Linked DNA regions of Homo sapiens: region 2 is linked to region 1. The links come from fine-mapping of genetic effects on gene expression. A gene starts in region 1. The other region holds a variant in brackets. All regions are shown on one strand. Distances are from middle to middle. Region 1 holds the start of PRR15 (proline rich 15). Region 2 overlaps CHN2 (chimerin 2).

The links. PIP is the estimated chance that this variant, and not a neighbour inherited with it, causes the effect.
Region 2: its variant is fine-mapped to the expression of PRR15 in thyroid (GTEx, PIP 0.98).

Annotation. Positions count from the first base shown.
Region 1 is chr7:29,558,196-29,570,102 of GRCh38, reverse strand. PRR15 (proline rich 15) reads right to left here and starts at 6,268. Exons shown (of 2, transcript NM_175887.3): 1 at 5,726-6,268; 2 at 2,810-3,918. The coding sequence starts at 3,773. The coding sequence ends at 3,384. It overlaps PRR15-DT (PRR15 divergent transcript), which reads left to right and starts at 6,412. Exons shown (of 2, transcript NR_183550.1): 1 at 6,412-6,715. RefSeq lists an enhancer at 3,782-4,645.
Region 2 is chr7:29,475,092-29,486,998 of GRCh38, reverse strand. It overlaps CHN2 (chimerin 2), which reads right to left. Exons shown (of 13, transcript NM_004067.4): 7 at 6,643-6,720. Among named protein-coding and RNA genes, the nearest start is that of PRR15-DT, 83 kb to the left of the region's middle. The variant C/G (reference allele first, on the strand shown) is at 5,985.

The DNA of each region.
Region 1 (11,907 bases):
ACCTTTCATTTGAAATTCTGTCTGCTCATTTTTAGTATTTGCTTCTTTCAAGGCACCCAAATATTCTTCTGCGCATCTCAGGAAAAGCACTATTTTTGACAAAGCTTTTAGCCAATGCTCATTAGGTTTCTATTTCCCTTCTAAGGACTTGGCAGGACTAGAATTGCTGAGTTCACATAATGTTTCGAAGCAGAAAAAATATTTCCAGGTGTTATACTAAAGGAGAACATCCTAATTGCATATGTAAAGTCGGGTTTGTGCTTTTGAAATGCAAGTCAGAATGTGCTGAACAATAGAAGTACAGACACAAAGGGACGTTCAGGTGACCTGTAATATGAGTCACTGCCCAGCCACCGATTTTGCAAGGAGAGTCACTGGGGCAAAAACTACCCTTTGTATATAATTATCGTGGTTACAAAAGTGTGTAGCAAATACACTGCTAGAGTTTTGTTCCTTTTTTTCCCATATCTTTGGAAGTATAGTGTTAAAATTTCTGATATGGCTTCCAAATTTGTGAGTGAAATTTCATTTGTAAGATAATTTAAAGAAAAGTTTCTGACTGCAAATTTAATTCAGCATTTTTTTTTACTATAAATTATCTCAAGGTTAAAAAAAATTAAATCTGTATATACTATTGGAATGTAATTAAACATCTGTAAAGCACATAAATCCCAGCAAGACACGTCGTCAAATTCTCTCATCTTCCTTATGCTCTTTCTGTCCCACCAATTTTGCTTGGTTTCTGATTTCACTGAGTTGGGATTAAATCAGTGTATTCCTCCCACTGCATAATTTAGGACTGCTTTAAAACGATGTAATTACAAACCTCAATGGCAGATTGTGAATTGCATTCACTGTCATAACTGCATTAGTATGGTTTTAAATTCTTTCAGAACAGTGGGGTAAAGATGTCATGTTAATATGGTAATAAGTTCCATTGCTCTACTATATGTCTGCTATTGATTATCTGCAGCAATTGTAGATTTGGATGGGATCCAAAATTAGACACAGAACCTTGAAACTTGCCAATGTTTTGTTCATCTACAGTAATTTTAAAGAAAAAAGTTCTTTAAAACAATAAAACTGGATGAAAGGGTTAGTATAGGATTTTAAACTTATGTAATTGCAGACTTAATTTTATAAATAGGTACAGTCCTGATCTATCGGTCTTCCTGAAGGAGGGAGAGAACATTTTGGGTAGTTACCTACTCTAATTTTGATTACTTTCTACGGAGTGAAATTGAAATACTTTTTGAAGGTTTTCCAAAGCCTTATTTGACAACATTTGCTATATTCACTCCCGTTGCTCTGCCAACCCCCAATCCTGTCCCTTATCATGAATTCTTTTTTCATGCCAAGTCTCAATTCCCTCTTCTTTTTCTGAATCTAGAGATGGTAGGCCCATTTAAACTGAATGTAGTCTGCCTCATCCAGGAAGCCCACCTGGATGAGATTTTGGTCACACACTTTCCAGTTTTACGTATACAATGAAAATGTCTTTTCATGCTTAAAAAAGTCCTCTCACATACTTTCTTTTAATTTAAGGTGTTCATAACCTCTAGATATACACTTTCCTTTAGTGTAAGGCCTTTGGTATGTGGAAACTCATGTATCAAAATTAGCTGTATTATTCTGCTGGCACCAAAGCTTGATTCATTAATTTAAATTCATTTCAGCCATCTTCATCAAATTTCTTTGTTAAATTTCTTTTAACAATCGAACTGTTTTGCTACTTTATAAATTACTAATTTGGGAGAAACAAAAAAATAGCTTGTCTACATATACAAATCGAGAAGCTATAATTAAGTTCCTGCTTGTCATTATCTACAAAGATATACACTTTGATCAATATAATTTTCCTGCCATGCATTTCTGGGTGTTTATAAATGAACTGAATTGTGGTGGGAAAAGATCCCAGTGCCTCTTAACGACTACAATAACTCTCTTGTAATTTTCTCAAAGCAAATGGTATTCGTTTACTCTTTTTCTTGAAGTTCATAATAAAAGCGAACAGCTTTTTGTTAAGAATCTTCAGGTTGTTAGATCTAAAGGGTCTGAAACTAGATAAATGCATACTTTAAGGAAATAAGCTTTTAAAGCAAAGGGGTGGGGAAAATACCCCCACCTCTTTAGCTGCGCAGAGTTCAGTCTTTTTTTTTTTTGAGATGGAGTCTCCTTCAGATGCCCAGGCTGGAGTGCAGTGGCACGATCTCTGCTCACTGCAACTTCTGTCTCCCAGGTTCAAGCAATTCTCCTGTCTCAGCCTCCCGAGTAGCTGGGACTACAGGTGCCTGCCACCACGCCCGGCTAATTTTTGTATTTTTAGTAGCGACAGGGTTTCACCTTTTTGGTCAGGCTGGTCTTGAACTCCTGACCTCAGGTGATCCACCTTCCTAGGCCTCCCAAAGTGCTGGCATTACAGACATCAGCCACCGTACCTGGCCTTGTTTTTTGATTTTAGACAATCGTTAGTAAGTTTAACAATGGATACTGAAAAGGATGTATTACTAGCATTGTAACTTACTATAGTCTATGAAAATGCACTGAAGTAAAAGGTGAATTTAGGAATAATGAATTGGTACCTCTCTCCCTTCCTCGAATTTGGCTGATAAATAGGGATATCTGGCTAACAAGTTCCAGTCCAGGTGTTGCTGGTTTCCAGAAATATTCTCTTCCCTGCAGCTTTCCACTAGTCACTGTTATGTTGTGTGGCAAATGATTAACTCTCACCTCGGACTTTGCCTGCCTGCTTTTAAGTATGATGGGATTCAGTCTTGGAATGGAAAAAATACAAAAGTCACCTTAAGCCTTACAGTGCAAGGGTTTTAATAGTCCACACTAAAATAGGCTGTACAGTTTTGTAGTTTAACATTAAAAGCAATCCTGCCTTATTTTAAAATGCTTCTACTTAAGAATGCTTCTTCCTCCCCCACTCCTTCACTTAAGGTATAAGTCTACCCCTAAAGTGCATTTCTCAGGCATTAAAAACAGCACTGTGATTTGCTTTCCACAGAGTCCTAAATAACAGCCACCTTCTTCATTTGAGAGGCTACAGAGTTCAAGCTGAGCTGTGACAGGAGCCAGGGGGCCAGGGCCCCAGAATAGCTTTTTGAAAAAAAAATAATTATGCCACCCTCCTCCGCGGCAGGTATCTTCTCTTACCACAAATAAATATTTAATGCATCCTTGGAGTCATGAAATATTGAGAACCCAATTGACACTTCAATTTCCAGAAAAATAAAATCATGAAGGCATTGTGTAAATATTCTGAATTTGGTGGAATGAGACAACGCGTAAGGGGGCGGGCCTGAAGTCTCGGGTTTGGAACTGGGGGTTTGGGGTAGTGCTGGGTAGGCAGTCCTGGAGCGCGCAGGCTATTGGGGCTACTGCTTGTCCTCGTGGGGGTCACCAGGAAAGCCTGCCTCCTCCGGGGACCTGCCCGCCTCCGGGAGCAGCGTGGCGCGCACTTTCCTCTTCTCCTTAAAGCGGCCGGAGCGCGAGATCTTCAAATTGCGGCGGCTGCTGCCGGATTTGTCCCCGTATAACTTGTCTGGTTTGGGGGGCTCGCCGGCGCCCCCGAGGAGATTGGGGTGCTGGTTCTCCCGGGAGCTGCTGGTCCAGTCCGGGCTGGGCGGCGCAGGTGGCGTGGGCTCCCCGGGAGCGGGCTGGGCGGGAGGCGGCACCCCCACTGCGGCTTCCTTGCTTTTCTTTCTGCTGTTGGTGAGCGATTTCCACCAGGGGCCGGAGCTGCCAGCATCGCCGCTGTCGGCCATGGCCGGAGGGCCTAGGGGCTCCCGGCACCCAGATGGAAGGGCCAAAGCGGCCCCTTTCTCCACGTGGTCTCCGGCCGTTCACTCCACCCCTTCCCCGGCTTGCCACACGTGGGCTGCGGGGTGGATGCTGAGGCAGCGGCCTGTGCTGGGGAAGAAAACAAAACTTGGTTACTGGGTTGGTTGAAGTCACGTGCCCCCCCCAGTCCCCTTTCCTCCCTTATGCTGTCTGGCACCGGATCGGCCAGGGTCGGAGCGACCCAATCCCGTAGCTACGTAGCCCACATTAGCATTAGACGCCACTGCGCCCCATAGGGTGCTGGCGGAAGTGTCTTCCAGGGCACCATCACCTGGTCTCTAGGCTGAGCCTTGAACTCTTTGGCTTCAACCTTTGCCTTTCCTTCAGGGGAAGTGCAGTGCAGTGGTCAGCGTGCCCGGGGGACCCAAGGGACGTTCCCACCCCTCTGAATCAACCCGTCTCTAGAGGGAAAATGACCGCCCTGTCCACACTGCTTGACTGTAGATGGACGCCAAAAGGTGACCCATCCGACCCAGGGCGGCCTCCCTTTGGATAAGCACCTGGGAGGAGGGCGCTGGGAACCAAGTGCATCCTCTCTACAGGTGAACGGTATTAATTAGTCCATGGTCAAACAGTCACGAAATTTCCCTCCAAGATTTGCCCCCATCGACTTTCGTCCCAGGAGCCTTTTCGATGAGATACTTAGGAGAATTTATATCCCAGTAGGAGAGAAGGACAAGCTTATGATATTTGTTTTGGTTCTTTTAAATTCTACTTTTGACCACTTCTGCCTTGTGACTTTCAAAGAAGCATGTCTAGACTTAACTTCCCTTGAAAACCGCCATCCTAATTCTTCCTTTTACTCCCCAGAGCCCAATCTTGCGTCTGTTTGAAGTCACCCCCGGCTGACGGTTGAGATGAAGCCAAGTATCAAATGGCCTCTTCCCTTAGTTTTGTATTAAAATATGCACCGAGTCTGTACGACGCAACTCAACTCTGGAGAATTTCAGTTACAAAGTAAAGGCTTCTCTTCTTTTCCTTGTGCAATTCCCTCCTCCCAAGGAGAAAGAACGCAACAAGGAACTCCGAAACAATGTGCTTCTTCCCCAAGCTTCTAAGACCCCCCCTCTGCAGAGCGAAAGGCCGCTTCTGAGCACTTAGGTGCGGGTACAGCAAGCGAGACTCCCAGCCCACTTTCTGTGCGGGGTCTCTTGGGCGCTGCCACCAGCAACGGCAGGATTCGCCTGCGCCGCGGCTCACTTCCAGGTTTCCGCTCGGCTCCTTCCCAGCCCACGCGCCGGGCGCTCCTGGGATTGGCGATCGCGCTGGAGAGGGAAACTTCGGCGGTGTTTGTTGTAGGAGGTTCTCCTCCCGGAACCGCCAGGGAGAGGAAGTCTGATCGCCTACGGGAGGCGGCGGGGCGGCCTCGGCTGCGCCCCGAAACCGCAACACCGGCTCCTCCCCAGGATGCCCTGAGGACACACTCGGGCAGCGACTTGAAAACAATACAAGAAAAAACGGCCAAAAGTTCTTTCGGTACAAAAGGCACCCACGCCCTCAGGCACAATTAGCAACTGCGTCTGCAAACATCCCATTCCCTCCTACTTTGCAGATCGGAAAAGCAACCCGTACCCCCAAGTCATTTACTAACAGTGGTGGTAAGGTGTCCTGATGCTGCTTCCTCTCCTCTAACCTACATTTTCTTCTTCACAATCATCAACTTTGTGAGCACGGAAGGGCTTTGTACGAATTGCGCAAGGAAAAGATGGCAAATTACTCAAAAGTACAGAAAACGGAGTCCTGGAGCGTCCGTGGTTTTCAGCCTCTCTTAGGGCTCCGGGAGGCGGGTACCTGGGAGGTACCAGGCAGCACCCCAGGGTGACCCCCGGGGCCAGGCTCTGTCTCGGCGGACGCCGAACCACCCCCAGTCGCTCACCTGCTCGGGCTTAACAGGACCCGGAGGCCTCGCGCGGTGAACGCGGCCGAGAGCACGAAGGGGGCGCGCTCGGGTCAACCTGGAAGCCGGGGCTCGAGTCCCTGGGCGCGGACTTGGAGAGATCAGGCTTCTGGAAAGTGTACAGGTCGGAATTCCCGCAGCCCAGCTAAATCAAGTGCTGCTGCTGGTCTCCTCTGGCACCTCCAATTGCTGCGCGCTGCGGCGGAAGCCCGGGGCTCGCAGCGCAGTCTGTTCTGGTCGGAGGGGGCGGCGGCGAGGGGCCGCCAGACTCGCTGCCCGGGTGGAAGGTCCAGGGCGGCTTTCCGGGCTAGTAGTGTTTCATTCGCCGGCGCGTCCCTCTTCCCTGCTAGCACCGCCCGGGAGCCGGCTGAGAGATGGGACCCTGGCTGTTCACTCCGGCGCATCGAACTTGCCTACGCGTCCGTAGGAACGCAAAAAAGACATCTGCCCACCTGCTGGTTATTTGCCAAGTGATTCGGGAAACCAGAACCCTGGGGCAGCTGGGGGAGAAAAGAAAATAACCCAGGAGGCGGTCACCGCTGCCACAGGTGCAGGTAGGAACTTCGCGTTCCCACCCTCCAGGGGAGGAGATTGGATCAGGCGCCAGCCTTGAGGTGTCTGATTGGAGAAAAGCTGTGCAGTGCCGCTCCCCCGACCGACTCCTTGAGAAGAAACGGCGGAGACCTGAGACCCGGAGGCTGAGGCTGTAGGTGGGCTCCGCTGGGTAAAAGTTGCCGCAGCAGCTGTCCCTTGGCCCCATCGCGATTTATTTTTCCCCCTTGCTTTCCGGGTCCCGGGATCCCAAGTTTGTAACTAACGGGAGCGAATCCACACCCGAGCAAAATGTTTGCGAGTTTCAGGCGCCCTTAGTTGAAAGGCTGTAATTAACAAGTCCGCTGTTTGCCAGCCAGGCGCCGTTGCAGGCGCTTTCTGTGGATTGTCATTTATTTCTCACAGCAACCCTAGGAGGTAGGTATTGTTATTATTATTATTCTCACTCGACAGGCGAGGAAACCCTAGCACGGGAAAATGGTTGCTCAGGTTTGCCTGTCTGGTACGTGGCAGAGCAGGGTTGGAACCCAGGGGGCCTGACTCTAGCTTCTACGGTCTTAACCACCACAACCTGCCAGTCTGAGACTCTTAACACGACTCAGTGAGGATGTGAATTTCCTTCTTTCAGGCCTGGAAGTCCATGGACAGCCACCCAACGAGGGCAGTGTAAATCCAGCCCTGAGCCACTGCAGGAAGTGAACCGGGGATTGCACTCCTGGTCACATAAGAGTACTTTTTTTTTTTTTTTTTTTTTGAGACGGAGTCTCGCTCAGTCGCCGAGGCTGGACTGCAGTGGCGCGATCTCGGCTCACGGCAAGCTCCGCCTCCCGGGTTCACGCCATTCTCCTGCCTCAGCCTCCCGAGTAGCTGGGACTACAGGCGCCCGCCACTGCGCCCGGCTAATTTTTTGTATTTTCAGTAGAGACGGGGTTCCCCGTGTTAGCCAGGATAGTCTCGATCTCCTGACCTCGTGATACGCCCGTCTCGGCCTCCCTCCCAAAGTGCTGGGATTACAGGCGTGAGCCACAGCGCCCGGCCAAGAGTACTTTTTATTCATTTGACATAAAGATATTGGCACAGGGCATTTTCACTAATGAAGGCAGAGGTGCAGCTTGCTTCATCTTCCAGGATGCTCTTGTTTCAAAAAACGATTTTGATGTTCCTTGAGCTCATATGCAAGCATAACTCCCCTGAAGGACTGGGTGTGGAGCAACTGAGCATCTCTGTTGTGAAAACTGTTTGCAGTATAAAAGCAGTGAAAGACAGCCGGGCAAGATGGCTCAAGCCTGTAACCCTAGCGCTTTGGAGGCCGAGGCGGGTGGATCACATGAGACCAGGAGTTTGAGACCAGCCTGGCCAACATGACAAAACCTTGTCTCTACTTAAAAATAATAATAAAAAACAAGGTGGGTGTAGTGGTGCACGCCTGTATTCCCAGCTATTGGGGAGGCTGAGGCACAAGAATCATTTGAACCTGGGAGGTGGAGGTGGCAGTGAGCTGAGATCCGGCCACTGCACTCCAGCCTGGGTGACAGAGTGAGACTCTGTCTGTAAAAAAAAAAAAAAAAAAAAAAAGTAGTGAAAGACATACTGCCTAACTCAAATAATTTGCAATATAGAATTAGTAGAAAAAATTTTTAGAGAGTATTTCAATTTGTGAAAGATAAAAATATGAATATATGATTTACTTTTTAGTTTGGGATTCTTTGAATTTCTATGATATGCACAGCACAGGGTATTTGGAAGTCATGCATTTTTATATATTTCTCGGGATTACTTTTAGAGCATAAACTTTCAATCACAGAAGCAGGATTGAACAAAGGCAGGCCACCAACTTTGAGGGGAGAATGGGATAATTCATCATAGTGCCATTACTTTACAGATGAAATTGAATCATGGAAGAATGCCTTTATCTGAGGAGTCATCACCACTAGGGAGCTATGGAGGTGGGTTTTTACGTTGTTGGTTGAGCATATGGGTGAAAATAAAAAATTCAGGAAAAGAAAATAAGTTCTGCCAACTGGCTCCTCAAGTGTGATTTTAACAAAATGGTCAACATTTTACTAATAAGCAAACCTCTACTAACTGCTGAAATTAACAAAAAAAAAAGATTATTTTGCATGCCCTTTCTCATTTATATTCAGCAACTTTGAACTTAATAACAACATCTTACAAATAACCCTTGTGTACGGGGAGGACATTGAAGGAGAGACATGAAAACTGAGGAGAGATTAGCTGAGATGCAGAGTGGGTGAGCATTTCAGATGGAGGAAGTAGCGTGTGAACAACTTGGAGGTGTGAAGAAATTGAGGTTTCTTGAGAGGCAAAGAGCAGGCGCATGTGATCTGAGTGAGGAGAGGGAGCTGAAGCTGGAGAGGTGGGTGTGACCAGAACATTCAGGACCACAACCCACTAAAGAGGAAGAACATGGTAAGATTCGCAGTTAAATGTTGTGCAGTGGTGTATAAAGAATGAATGGGGCTGGGCGCGATGGCTCATGCCTGTAATCTCAGCACTTTGGGAGGCCGAGGCAGGTGAATCACGAGGTCAAGAGATTCAGACCATCCTAGCCAACATGGTGAAACTCTGTCTCTACTAAAAATACAAAAATTAGCTGGGTGTGGTGGCGTCCTTCTGTAGTCCCAGCTACTCAGGAGGCTGAGGCAGGAGAATCGCTTGAACCCGGGAGGTGGAGGTTGCAGTGAGCCGAGATCGCGCCACTGCACTCCAAGCCTGGTGACAGAGTGAGGCTCCATCTCAAAAAAGAATGGGCCAGGCGCAGCAGCTCACATCTGTAATCCCAGCACTTTGGGAGGCTGAAGTGGGAGGATTGCTTGAGCCCAGGTATTTGAGACCCGCCTGGGCAACATGGGGAAACCCCCATCTCTACAAAAAAAACAGAAGAAATTAGCTAGGTGTTGTGGTGTGAGCCCGTAGTCCCAGGTGCTTAGGTGGTGAGGTGGAAGGATCACTTGGGCCCAGGAGTTCCAGGCTGCAGTGAGCTATGATTGCACCACTGCACTCCAGCCTGGGCAACAGAGAAAGACTTAAAAAAAAAAAAAAAGTGGATGGTAGAGGGGACAAAATGGGGCAATCAGGATACCAGTTAGGAACTGTTGGGAGACTTTAGGTGGGATATTCTGAAGCCTGTAGTACAGTGGTGGGAGTTGATTTGGTGGGGGATGAAGATAATTAGGTGGATGCAACAGGAATGTTGGAGATAGAATCAACAGGGCACTATTTCATTTAATTCCTACAAATAAGGAGATTGAGTTTGACTAGAAGCTGAGAAGGGAAATACTTTCACAGCCTTCCCTGTGACTAGGAGTGGCCATAGTGATTCAGTTTTGGCCTATGGGGCTATAAGGAAGACTTCTGGAAATGCTTCTTTTCCAGATAAAGGACAGAACCTCCTGAGAGAACATCTTTTGCCACACCCTTGATGCTTGCATTTAAGCACAGCATGAGGATGTGACGTCTGGTGTGACAGCAGCCAGTGAGGCAGCAGGGATGGGAATAGGACACGTCATGCTAAGGATGATGGCATGGGAGTGTGGAAGTGTCTAGGTCCTCGATTACACCATCCATTCCCTGAAGGAACCCTGGAACCACCTACCTGTGGACTTTTAGTTCAGTGAGATCGTACATATCCCTGTGGTTTAACCACAGATTTAAACACAGTTTTCTGTTACTTGTAGCCAAACCCATTCCTACTTGGTAAGGACTATTTTAGTTAGAGGAAGAGACGATATTGTCCAAAAGGGAAAAAAGCTAATATTGCCACATTTTTTTGGACTAATATGAAAAGTTCTTCCCAGAAGGAGGATTTAGTGAAATGTTAAAGTGATGGGCAAGTTTTTAGAGGCAGAGAATGCATCTGTAAAATTTTGAGTTAAGGGAATGGGTAGATAAAACATATGTATAGTGCATGGATAAGTAAACTGGGGGTAAGACCAAAAGGTGAGGTTCATCAGATTATCTGAGATATCAGTGTAATTTGACTTTTAAAGACAGTGTTAAACAATTAAGACTTATTTTTCTCCATTTTTGCATCTAGAACTGTTTTAATCTCTCCCCACCAAGACACACACACACACACAAATGGTTAGTATTACAAGTATAGTTGTGTTCTGTAACTATTGATCTGGGAATCATATTGTTTGGTTCTACAAGGAGGACATGGTCTGGCCCTACAGCTCTGTATTGTTAAGCTAGACATCTTACATGATAGATGCATTTAAAAGTTGATTCATCTATTTAGTTAATAGTAGATGACTTTTAATGTTACAATATTGACATATGCTTTAACTGGACAATGCTTACATTTCTTAATTTATCTTGTCATTATTTTTCAAAAATGCATTGATGATTTGGGTGAGGACACATTTTTTCTTTTTCTTTTAAAAAATTAGCACCAGGCCTGGTGGCTCATGCCTGTAATCCCAGCACTTTGGGAGGCCGAGGCAGGCAGATCACCTGAGGTCGGAAGTTCAGGACCAGCCTGACCAACATGGAGAAACCCTGTCTCTACTAAAAATACAAAATTAGCCGGGTGTGGTGGTGCATGCCTGTAATCCCAGCTACTTGGGAGGCTGAGGCAGGAGAATCACTTGAACCTGGGAGGCGGAGGTTGTGGTGAGCCAAGATCACGCCATTGCATGCCAGCCTGGGCAACAAGAGAAAAACTCCATCTCAAAAAAAAAATTGCTTCTTTTAAAAAATTAAATTGAACCTTTAAGTGCAATAAATATTTATACTCAAAGACAATAGAGAAGGAATTATTAGAGGACAAGCATTGCACTAGCAATTAAAATCAGATTTTTACAGGTTAACATGGCATCTGCTCTCTTAGCAAATCTGGCATTGAATGGTAGGTTGAGAAATGTATTATCTTCCTTTGAAGCATCTGTATTGGGAACTAGGCAAAGAGAAAAACAAGATGAGAAATTTAAAGAAATATAGAAATCTAGCTAATCAAAATGAAGAAAATAAGAATCACCTATGTTCTTTTCATTCAGGGATGAGCCTGGTTAATGTTTTGGTGTTAGTCCTTTTGAGCTTTTTGCCACTTGTTTTCATGTTTACTCTTTTCATTTTTTCCTTTCCCTCCCTTTCTTCATTCCTTTCTTCTATGGACTCCTCCAGCTTTTGGAAATTACGCATGTATCTCTCCTGTCCTTTTTCTTTATAGTCATCAATGTATGAGTACTTTACGATTTCTTTTCTTCTTTCTGTGTATATGCATCAGTGTTGTGGATTTAGAGAGTGGGGATTTTACCCATGCATGAAATTGGAATCCACTTTTTACAGCATCTCATCCTGTACCTTGTCAGGTTAACACACATGCACATCTAGAAGTTCAAAAATTATAGTCACAAAACATTACTAATTATTTCAGTTCTACACATTTTCCCTGAGTACTACTTGACCTAAGCAAGGCTGATTTCTTTGCCCAATGCCACCTTTCTCTGCAATTCATCAACACCAGCTGACTCTTCCTGACCCCACTCCTAGTCCCTGTGTCTCACGAGCCCTTTCCCTGAATCATAGGTCTGCAAGTCATCAGCCTCCCTGTTCACCCGTCTTAACAAATGGTCATCCAGTGTCTG
Region 2 (11,907 bases), 83 kb after region 1:
GGAAGAGGAAGAGAGAGGGGCTTGCATGCGGGAAGCAAAAAGTCTTCTTCCAAAGCAAATGACCACTAGACTGAGAAGAATGCAAAAATGAATGAAAGGCCTAGAAATCATCAAGGAGCCTCAAATCCAAACTGGGAGGTGGTGGTGCTGCCACGTCCTGGACAGGTGTTTTAGTGGGAGCGTGGGGACATATTCTTAGCTTCTTGAACTTCTAGTCCTGGCCTCCAGGATAGCACGGGGTGGGGGTTGCATGTTGAGAAGGAGCATGCTACAAGAGCACACGCGATGGGGTGTGCCATGGGAACGGGGTGCTCCTGGTGCATCCTCAGTCTGTCAGCAGAGTGGGGGACATATAAGAGTAAGTAGGGCAACCATTTCCCCTACGTCCTGATGGGATGCTTTTGAAAGGCGCCACACAGGACAGCTGTAGTGAACTGGGACAGATCCCTCCTCCCCCTTACCCGCCCGCTCCCATGGATCAGACACGGGGTAGCACTGCACAGTCACCATCCCTGGCAAATGGGGATTGAGAGCTGGCCCGACACATCCTGATAGGGCCTCCATCTCTCCTGCGCCATCTGATGACCCTGGCAAGGGCCCACTCCGTGGAAGGACTCTAGTACAATGAACACAGGTGCATACAACACACAAGCCGCACAAGAGGGCAAACTGCAGGGCAGGGAGTGAGGAGAGGGCTCCGAAAGCTCAACTGTAGGGAGATACGGTCCCCTGCTTTCTGCCAACGTGAATGAACAGCTTGTGGGCCAGGACTTGTTCTAGACACTGGGGTTTCTGCAGTCAATAAAACAGACAAAAATCCCCACTCCACGAACCCTCTCTCCCCACCCCCTCCCATCGGGAGTTTCCCTCTGGTAAGGGGAAGGCAGGCAAACACACACATAAATATGTACGATGTCAGCTGGTGATCAGCGCTAGGGAGAAAAGGGAAGCTGGTACAGGCTGGGCAGGAGGTGGAAGGGGGGTGGAAAGGGAGTGGGGAACACACAGTGAGGGGGGTTAGAACTTTCTGGGCCTCTGCTCTCCATCCATATTCCATATCGGGAAGAAGGAAGGGTATCCTGGAAGTGCATGGGGGTGGGAGAGAATTTGGCAGGAAAGAGTGATGCAGATCCCCATGCAGACTGGAGAGGCTGGGAACAGAAGCAGCAGGCTGAGTGGGGGAAGGGCCTGCTCAGGAGACTCTGATGGCTCCAGGGCCCAGGAATCATCATCTTTCCACCATCTGGCCCACCCCAACTGATGATTTAAATGTGATGGACTCCTTTCTGTCCCCGAGGTCTCTCCCCTGCACCTTATTCGCTCCTGGCACATTTCTGACTCCAAGTTCTCACTCCTGTTGTTTGCATAGCCCGGGTGCTCTTTCTTTCCCCTGTATAACCATCCTTGATCTATTTATCTACTTGGGCTTCAGCCAACTTTCCACCTACCCACGAGGATTCTTGGTTAAGGCTGAGAGAACAACCACACTGTCTCTTACACAGGATCTCCAGCACTAGGGAGCCCCCTCCTCTTTGAATGCTCACAGAAGCTTGTCTTTTACTCCTGTTTTTTTATACATCACCACAGGGTCAGCTTCAGGGCGCATGTGACCTGCGCTGTTGCACAGAGCCCTGTCCTTAGCATGGTTTAATGTGCTGCTGTCATAGTTTTGAAAGTCTCAATTTTTTTTTTTAACAAGAACCTCATATTTTCATTTTATACTAGGTCTCACACATTACCTGCCCAGTCCTGCATAATCAATCACACATATTAGTGTGAACTAATAGCTACATCATAAATTTGATTATAAAGTATAACACATACTCTGAATATGAACCAGCTACAGCAAATAGACACTTTCAACTTGCTACTAAAAATGGAAGCTCACCAGCTATTTTAAAGTTTTTTTGGTGCCTCTTTTAATGAAGAAATGCTTGGTAAAGATAAGAGACAAAGAATAACTAAGTTTCACCACTTTCTATCAGAGCAATGAAGCACTGATAAGAAAAATCCATGAAAACTTTTCTTTACAGATGTTAAAATCAATAGCCATGGAAATCAGCAGTTATGCCTGGACCAAGGGGTTGACACTTAGGAGCAATTAGATTACATCTAAAGACCTTTTTTCATGGACATAAAAATCTTTAATGAAACTGTAAACTTTAACATTACTGACAATGCATCCTTTAGGGTGAGGCTAGAGATCCTTCCTATTGAGGGTTCCTGAAAATGTCAATTACAGTTCCTATAACGGGTTGCATCGTATATCCCCCGAAAGGTGTGCTTCACTCCTAACCCTGGGTCACTGTGCATATGACCTTATTTGGAAATAGGGTCTTTGAAGATATAATTAAGACGACATCATACTGGATTAGTATGGGCCCTAAATCCCATGGCTGGCAACCTTATAAGAAGATGACAGATATACAGAGACATACAGAGAAGGCTATATGAAGATGGAGGCAGAGATTGGAGTGGTGTGTCTACAAGACAAAGAACGCCAAGGACTGCCGCAACCACAAGAAGCTAGGAGAGAGCTGCAGGGCAGTTTCTCTTTCAGAGCCTCCAGAAGGACCCAACCCTGCCCATACCTTGATTTCAGACTTCCCAGCCTTCAAAACCACCAGCAAATAAATCTGTGTTGTTTTAAGCCACCAAGTTTGTGGTCATTTGTTATGACAGCTTTAATAGAAAGTACTTTTTAAAAGCTAGGAGAAAAATGTGTGAAATCTAAATCTAAATCATCTAAGTCATCCATTTACTTTTTAAACAAACGAGGGGTATAAACCAGTATTGGCTACAGGATGGAATACATTCAAGGAAATAACCATCAGGCTTTATTTCATTTTCTCTTACATATAATTAATGAGAGAAGAAGAAAGAGATGGTAGAAAAGAGACAAAAGAAAAAAAGCCATGAAGAAGAGAGGGTAGAAAATAAAAGACTGAAAAAGCTAGATACAAAAATACAAGTGAGAGGCACAAAAAGATAATAATAGATGCTAACATCAAATGAATACTTACTGGGTGCCAGAGACCACGATAAGTGACTCGCATGTATTCTTTAAACCTCCCAACACTCCCATTTTATAGATGAGGGAACTGAGGCAGAGAGAGCTGAGCTCTTTGGAAGAACATGGTGTGGCCAGGAGTACTATGCGGGCTAAAGCTACCTCAGCACTGTGCTAAGTGTGGGCAGGAAGCCGAGCAAGCCGACTGCCGGGCCTCTGGGGTTGGCTGGCCTGAAGATTTTCAGAGCTCAGCCATAAGGTATTATTAGGGTGGACCATTCAAAAGAGAGCTGTTCCAGTTACAGCAGAGTGCCTCCTTAAATCAACTAGATAAACAGAGATGCAGTTATAAAATGAGCTAAATAACCGAGTGGTTTTTCTCTTGACAAACAGTTTTCATTTTAGAGAGGAGTCTGTTAATTTCACCATTCCTCCAACAAATACGTCTCAGTGCCTAGTAGGTACAAGTAACCCTAGGAAATCCAGGCTTTAAATAAGCAAAGATTGCATCAGCACACAGTGTTGAAAAGTATACAATTATTGCATGCGATGAGGTGCCAACTGTCCTTTGGTTCCCAAAGCTTTTGTTCTCAGAGCCGAATTTTACTTTGCTTAGACAAGCTTTGTTTGAGAAGCAAAGGCAGTGACTGTGAGCTTTCTGAGAGAATAGAGCGCAAGGTCCCAACTTAGGGAATGTTGGGGGTTTCTATTCATTCCTCTTGACAAAGTTCCTGGGCAGAGCAAAGGAAAGGGCTTTTTACCTGGGGTAATAGTTCTGACTGGGGCAAACAATCTTGTTATGGGGTAAGAAGAGAAACTCTACTGGCAAATTTGAATGTCAGGTAGGAGGCCTCTAGAAAAAAGTGCAGGCCGGGCGCGGTGGCTCACGCCTGTAATCCTAGCACTTTGGGAGGCCGAGACGGGCGGATCACGAGGTCAGGAGATCGAGACCATCTTGGCTAACACGGTGAAACCCCGTTTCTACTAAAAATACAAAAAATTAGCCGGGTGTGTTGGCGGGCGCCTGTAGTCCCAGCTACTTGGGAGGCTGAGGCAGGAGAATGGCATGAACCCGGGAGGCGGAGCTTGCAGTGAGCCGAGATCGCGCCACTGCACTCCAACCTGGGAGACACAGCGAGACTCCGTCTCAAAAAAAAAAAAAAAAAAAAAAAAAAAAAAAAAAAAAAAAAAGAAAAAAGTGCAGACAGCACCTAGCAAAGCCTATTATCTGATGAGCATGAAAATGTGATTATTTGTTCTTTTTATTGACTGCTTACTATATGCTATGCACATAGTAGCCTCAAATATTAACCCGAATTACAAATCAAGAAGGCTTCTGAATAAAGCCCATTAGAAGTTAATGTAAATAAAAAGCTAATGTAAAATTAAGGTCTGAAACACAAATTCCAAGCAGATGGCAGGGACCTAGGATAAGAATTTTCTTCCTTTAGTTCAGTTCAGTGGCTTGTCCCTAAAAACCTGCCACTGTATTTATAGCCTGAGCCTGCTTTTTGAATGTTCTTCCAAAAACCATGTAAAGTTTCCACCTAGAGTTAGTTGCGGGTGAGGAGTGGGGAGATTGAGGGTGGAAAGGGCAAGGAAGGACAAAGGGGATGCCTCATCTGGCCCCTGCCACTCATTCTTAAGGACAGTGGCACCAACAGTACCATCGAATGCCACAATCAACTGTCACAGCTACTTGAGGTCTGCTAAGTTTCAAAGATGTCTGTTTAAAACATGGAAGAGAAACGCTCCTGTCTGGCTTGTGTACTCCTCTTGAACAGCTTCTCTATTTTGTGCCTTTTCTTCTTTCAAGAGCTGTTAACGGTGAATAGCTTTTGAGTTTTTAAACAAATATTAGAAGAGCTGCTGGTGTTTTCCAGTGATAAGTAATATATTGTGTTAGCAACAGTACTACTTAAAAAATAAGATTTAATTATCTTTTAGTTTTAAAATGTCTTAAGATTAATTTTCCATTCAGGGATCTAACATTAAAAGGACTGAAATTAGTTTTGAAAATATCAACTATGTATATTTGTGTGTTTTTAACACAAGCTCAGACACAGAATATACATGGACAAGCTACTCCATGCAAACATATTATAGTATGGCATAATTCCAATTTCTTAACGCCAAATGAATTGGAATTTTCAAGAGGAAGAAAAAGAATTTACAAGTCCATGAAGATCCATCCTCTCATCACTAGTAGTGTATCCACAGGATGCAAAAAAATCAAGGATTTCTGCTAAAAATCAAAAAAACACTTTCTTAAGGCCAAAAAAAATTAATGAGGATAAAAATGGAAAACAGAGTAAAAAAAAAAAAAAAAACGGGAGGCATTTAATGCTCCAAATTAGACCTGTCAATATTCAGTGACGGGAGAAATATGAAAAGCTTTGGCATAGAAGAGGACCTATGCAATGCAATTCTTCACCCTAATGCTAAGTATGTAGGGCTGTATAATTCCATTCCTCAGTTCAATTATAGCATGCAAATGCCTGAGCTGCTGGCTTTCTAAAAACAGATGCAGGGAAACAGACCAAACTAACACCAATGTATATTTAATAGATGAATATTTGTCCTCAGAAAGGATCGGAAAGCAACAGAATAAAATCAGTTTCCCTCGTCACCTCTGACAAAAGGGTTATCTAATTCCAAGAGTCACTTGGGTTACTGACCCTAAAGGAAACAAGAATTTTTTTAAAAGAAAGCAATTCACATTTTGCTTCTCCTGCCTATTGTTTTCTTCCTGGATCCTCCATCTCCACTCTCCCCAACTTTCAAACTGCCAGCTCACTTTTTGGGGTGAAGCCTCTAACTCTAACCTGTCTCTCCTCCTCTCAACTGCAATTCAAGCTAGACAATTTGGCAGCAGCATCCCTTTCCAGCCCTTCTTGGAAAACACTTGGGCAAAGGAAACAGGCCATAATTTTCTGATGGCAGGCCCCTTCTACAAGTACCAGTCTGAAACGAA[C/G]ATAGCGGTCTTTCCAGTTTATAAATTCACTTGGGAAATTCCACTTAACCCCTCACCAGGTTTCCAGATCTTTTTGTTTGGTCTGGTGAGCAGGATAAAGGCTGTGACCAAGGGTGCCCCCCCTGCTAGCCGTACCCGGAGCACAAATAAAAGCTTCTGGATGGCATCTCCTGTCATTATTTGATTTCACAGGTGTCTACGCATAAAGGAAAGGAGTTAGCATCACTGAAAACAAAAGACAAAACACAAAACGAGAAACAGGCAACTGTTTTCCCTTGCTCGGAGACAGCAATATTCTTTACTGAGTGGAAAAGTACTGCTCAGCTCTCAGCAGAACATCTCTGACTGAGAGAGACTGGGCATGCTCTGTGTTTATTTCACTGGACATGGGAACGTGAAGTGGCAATGGGCCCAATTCTCCAAAACTAAGTCAACATCCAGATAAGGTGTTTCCAGGCATAAGCACTGAGCAGACTGCTTTCTGAGGTCTCCAGTTTGAACTGACAGAAAGCGCAGGTGTTAAGCTTATAGCTAAATGTGGAAAGCAAAGGAATTCATTGTCTCTTGACTTTACAGTCAGAAACCAGACGGAAACTATACACTGTACCTTTCCACCTGCCCTTTTGTAACAGAAGAAGGAATGCAGAGGCTTGCTTACCTTAAAGTTGTGTGTCTTCTCATAATTGAAGTGGTTGTCGTTGTGTGTGAGGGCAGCCCTTCGAACCAGGGAGGAGATCTGTGAACAGGCAAAGAGTTTGAGAGGGGGCCAAAGAAAGCCGCCTTTGACACCCACCTTCACCCCGAAGGCTACGGCCAGCAGTTCTTGGCGTTTCCTGCCCTGCTTAGACTTCCGAACCACAGCACACTTTTTCTCATTTTCCAGCCACAGTTCTTCAGAGAACATAGTGCCTGGATCCCAGCTCTTTCCAGTTTGCTCTGCAGAGCCCAGGAAGCCCTGTGCTGTCAGGATTTTCGAACCGCAGCTTATGTTAGGCGGCAGATTTGAGGCAGCTGGGTCCTGTCTGCAGCAGCCTCCGGCATGTGACCTGAAAGGCCCAGTTTGAGTGATGGAGGGGGCCCGGCTTCTGAATAAGGATGGGCCTGTTTTGTGCTATTTCTTAAGGCCGACGTGCGCCTGGAACAATAGCAAACATTCATGTGCACAGCAACCCCCAGAAGCGGTATCCAGTCAGCCACTGAGGATTCAGGGAGGCAGGGGCCGGCAGCCTGCTTTCTCCTGCCGCAGCACATTGCAAAGGAGAGGTCTCTCCTCCTTATTAGCACATTTCACACTCAAACACACCAGCGCACACACCCCCCAGCCAGCTCTGACGTTCAAAGTCTGAGGCTGCATCCAATTAATCTGGGGCTCTGAACCCCATCCTGGGCTGAGCTCCAACAGATTAAACCTTTAAACCCTGATGACTGTTTAATCTTATAGGGGTAAAGCCTATGTCTCTTTATTAAAAATCTGCCTTAGCACTTGAAAGCTTAATTTTTATTCTTATGCATGCATTACATTGGAACAGTCTGAGCACCAAATGGGATATCAGAGGAGAGCAAAGCTTTTCCACTCTGAGTTCTGCAAAGTTGCAGAATAAGAGGCAGGATGTCTTGCCTCAGGACACTCCCCGGTCTCTCCTGTCCTTCCTGCACGAACAAACTCTGCTCAAACCCACACAGACAAGACAATATTCCTTACCTAAAATCAAAACATCATAATTGCTTTTCTTTTAAATAAAACATCTTCAGTGTTCATTCTGTTAGTGCCCAAGCCTATGAAAATGGCCTCCTTCCTCTTAAAAGCATCATCTGTTTGATGGTCTCCCATGACCCTAATTCTTTGATCCTAGGTCTCCCCATGAAAAGAAGCAGGGAAATCCTGATGTCTTGGGAGTACTCCTGACTCATTGGTGAAGATTAATGCAGCTAATGCCAGACAGTAAAATTAATGCTTTAGGAACTAGAAAACAAGATCTAGATAACTGGGCCTTTATGTAGATGGGCAGTCCTGTCCTCTACTCAAACAAGGGCCCCATGCTGCAGTCCCTCCAAGCAGCCTTGTGAAGAGTAACCAAAGATCACTCCTTCCCATGTGTAATTCTTTATTCCTGGTAAACACCATGATTTTAACTTGGTTCAAAAGTTCATCCTCCCATTTCATCCTCTCATGACCTTCAATAATAACACCCAATTTTTACGTTAAGCTATTGAGCACAATAATTTACGCTGTGTCAGAGGACGTTAGAATGTGTCAAAGGCACTTAACTCATTTAATCTGCAGCATATGGGTGTGAGGAGCAAGATTTTTATTCCCGATTCTTTTGGATGAAGAGAGCAAGGCACTGAGAGGTAAAGCAATTTGCCCAAGGACATGCAGCCTAGTTTAAGTGGCAGAACCAGGGCTAGAACACAAAGCATCTGTGTCCAGCGCCCATGCTCCTCAACACTGTGTCCTGCTGCCTCGGTACACCCATGTGCTGCCTCATCCTGCCATCAGTCCTGACAAATGCTTTATCTCAGATACTGGTTGAGTCTGGCCTCTCCCTACCTTTCTTTCCCCACATAACTCAGACCCTTGTTATCTCTCCAGTCCACCTTACACATCGCTCTACAACAATCTTCCTAATCCACCCATGCTTCTCCATAGCTTAACTGTGTCCTGGCATTGCTGGTTTTTCATGAGCTGATCCTAATGTACCCAGCTCATCCTATTTCCCTACACTCCCCTCCACAAATCCTACAACATCTCTTCTGTGACATACTTAACTGCTAACCTTGGTAGCTTGCTCTGTTCTTTAGAATATTCTAGCATCCTTTCAACATATCTACATTTTCACCAACATTTACATTCTGATTCTAATGCTACCCTTTCCAAAAGGACTTCCCCAGACTCCCCACTGAAGGCCAACTGTGTCCTCTGAAATCCCATAGTGTTTTATCCACATTTTTCTGATTGCACTTGTCACTTTCTGTCTTGTATTATAGTGACTATAACAGCTCTTATCCCTGCCACACTGAGAACTCACTGTGACATGCTCTATGCTTAATTTGCTTTTGTTTCCCCCTACAAAAGTGTCTAATAAGAGTCCTTGCCACAGTAGACACTGAATAAATATAAGTTGCTAGAAAGCACATGTACATATAGGAAGCCAGGGTTGTGGAAGAAGGTGTGCAAAGAGGACTGCATGGTGCGGGGTCTCCAGTCCCTCCTGTGACCACCCATCCACTGCCTCAGCTTCCAAAGACAAGGTTCCCTCCAGGGGTCTACTCTCTTAATGGGCTTCACCAGGCCCCTTGGCCCTTCTTCCCACTGTCCCATTCTGAAGGACAACTGTTATGGCAGGCGTTAAGTGAAGGCTTGGCATACCTTTGCAGGGCTTCCCATCCTTAGTCTACAGGTAAAAAGATGGAGAGAAGCAAAAAGGGTCCTTTCCCAACCTTCACTGCTAGCAAAGCGAGAGAGACCTTTTGATGGTGAGCCATTTGTGTAAGGGCAAATTCTGTGATGTGGACTGGACTAATGACATGAATATACCATTTTTAGAATCTGATCAAATAACTATTTACATGGAAAGTGGCCAAAAGAATCTCCTCCTTTTGGTCTATGGATGGTTGAATACAATGAGATTTAATATTTTTTCATGTCTGTGCTTGTATGTATAACAAGTAATTTTTATTTCCATTTGTGACAGTGATTTCTTTTTCAGCTATTGATTCAATAGAATTTACCCAAACACAAGACACATTCAGACAAGTGAAGGAACCAACACTATTCCCTTAGGATGCTTCTTTACAGGGGACTAGAAGTGTTAGCCTTTGAGCGAGCATTACTGGGAGCAGTGTGGGTGACCTCAGATCACCCTCTTATTAAGGGAAAACTGATTACAGTAATCTCTTGGCGAAAACTTCTCTCTGAAATAACCCCATCACACAGAGCTCTTTTTTATCTCAGCTCCTCAAGGACAGCTCCTTGCCTTATTTTATATGCTCCGTAATGTCTAATATAGTGTTCTCTATACACAAGGGACATTTAATACATTTGCTGACCGTCTTCTTCTAATGAAAATTTCTACCTGACCTATTTTAATATATACATTCATGAGATGAAGCACATTTCCCTACATGCTCTGTTTGAACCAGGGATTCTCACTGGAACGAATGGTCTTTTGGGCCAGATAATCTTTTGTTGTGGGAGGCTGTCCTGTACGTTGCAGGATGTTCAGTGGCATTCTTTGCCTGTATTCACTAGATGCCAGTAGAGCCCCTCCCCCTAAGTATGTAATAAAAAATGTCTCCAGACATGGCCAAATATTCCCTGGGAAGCAACGCTGTCTCCAGTTGAGAATACTGGGCTAAATTAATAACACAAATATTAATATTTATATCATGCTTACTATGTGCCAAGTGTTATACTCAGCGCTTTGCATATATATGTGTATTTTTTTTTTTTAATTTTTATTGGTGGTTTTTTTTTTGAGACGGACTCTCGCTCTGTCATCCAGGCTGGAGTGCAATGGCGCGATCTCGGCTCACTGCAACCTCTGCCTCCCGGGTTCAAGTGATTCTCTTGCGTCAGACTCCCAAGTACCTGGGACTATAGGCACGTGCCACTGTGCCTGGCAAATTTTTGTATTTTTAGTAGAGATGGGGTTTCACCATGTTGGCCAGGCTGGTTTCAAACTCCTGACCTCAGGTGATCCACCCACCTTGTTCTCCCAAAGTGCTAGGATTACAAGTGTGAGCCATGGCACCCGGCCCACTTTGCATATTTTGACTCATTTAAGATTTAAAACCCTACGAGGTAGGTACTGTTATAATTACCCTTATTTTACAGATAAGGAAATGGAAGCTGAGAGTTTAAGTGACTTGCCCATGGCCACATAGCTGGTAAGTGGTAGAATATAGGCACAACTAACTGAGCCTATCTTTCCTCAAAGCCCTGAAGAACAAGTGTCTTTCCTTCTACTACACTTAACATAAAATTTACCATTTTAACCATTTAAAAATGTAAAATCCAATGGCATTTAATGCATTTACAATGTTCTGCAACAATCACCACTACCTAGTTCCAGAATATTTCATCACCCCAAAATGAAACCCTGTACCCATCAGTACCACTGCTCATTCTCTTCTCCTCCCAACCTCTGGCAAACACCAATCTGCTTTCTGTCTCTATGAATTTGCCTATTCTGGATATTTTGTATAAAGGGAATCGTACAATATATGGGTTTTGATATCTGGCTGCTTCTTTTTTCTTTAGATATTTCACTTAGCATGTTTCAAGGTGCATTTATGCTGTGGCATGTATCAGTACTTCATTCCTTTTTGTTGCTGAATAACAATCCATTGTATGGATATACCACACTTCATTTCCATTTATCAGTTGATGGACATTTAGACTGTTTTCACCTTTTGGCTAATTGTGAACCATGCTACTAAGAATATCCTCATACAAGTTTTGTTTGAACGCTTGTTTTCAATTCTTTTGGGTATACACTAAATCTATGCTTTTAAATATTGTTTAAACAGTCTCTCATCCCCATAATACTTACATTAAAAAATATGCAGTGGTTGAATGCTTGAATTACTCTCTTCCCCATTATAGTCTGTCAACGACTAGCAGGTCTGGTGTTCCCTGAACTGGTTTTTAAATAGGAGACTTTAGTTCTCCCTGAGCCCACTGTGAAAGCAGGTACCACTTAAGATACTTCTGGAAGTAGGTGGGGCTATAAATAAATGGTGACATAAGCTCACCACTTCTTTTTTTTCTTCTTTTTTTGATGAATAAAGGTTGGGATTCTATTTTCTAAGCCCTCTCACTGTTCTTCTTTCTCTCTACAATTAGGATCCTGGATCCAAGAAGGAATCAAGTAACGAGAAGGCAATGAGAGGTTGTCAGATATAGACAAGGAGGAAAGGG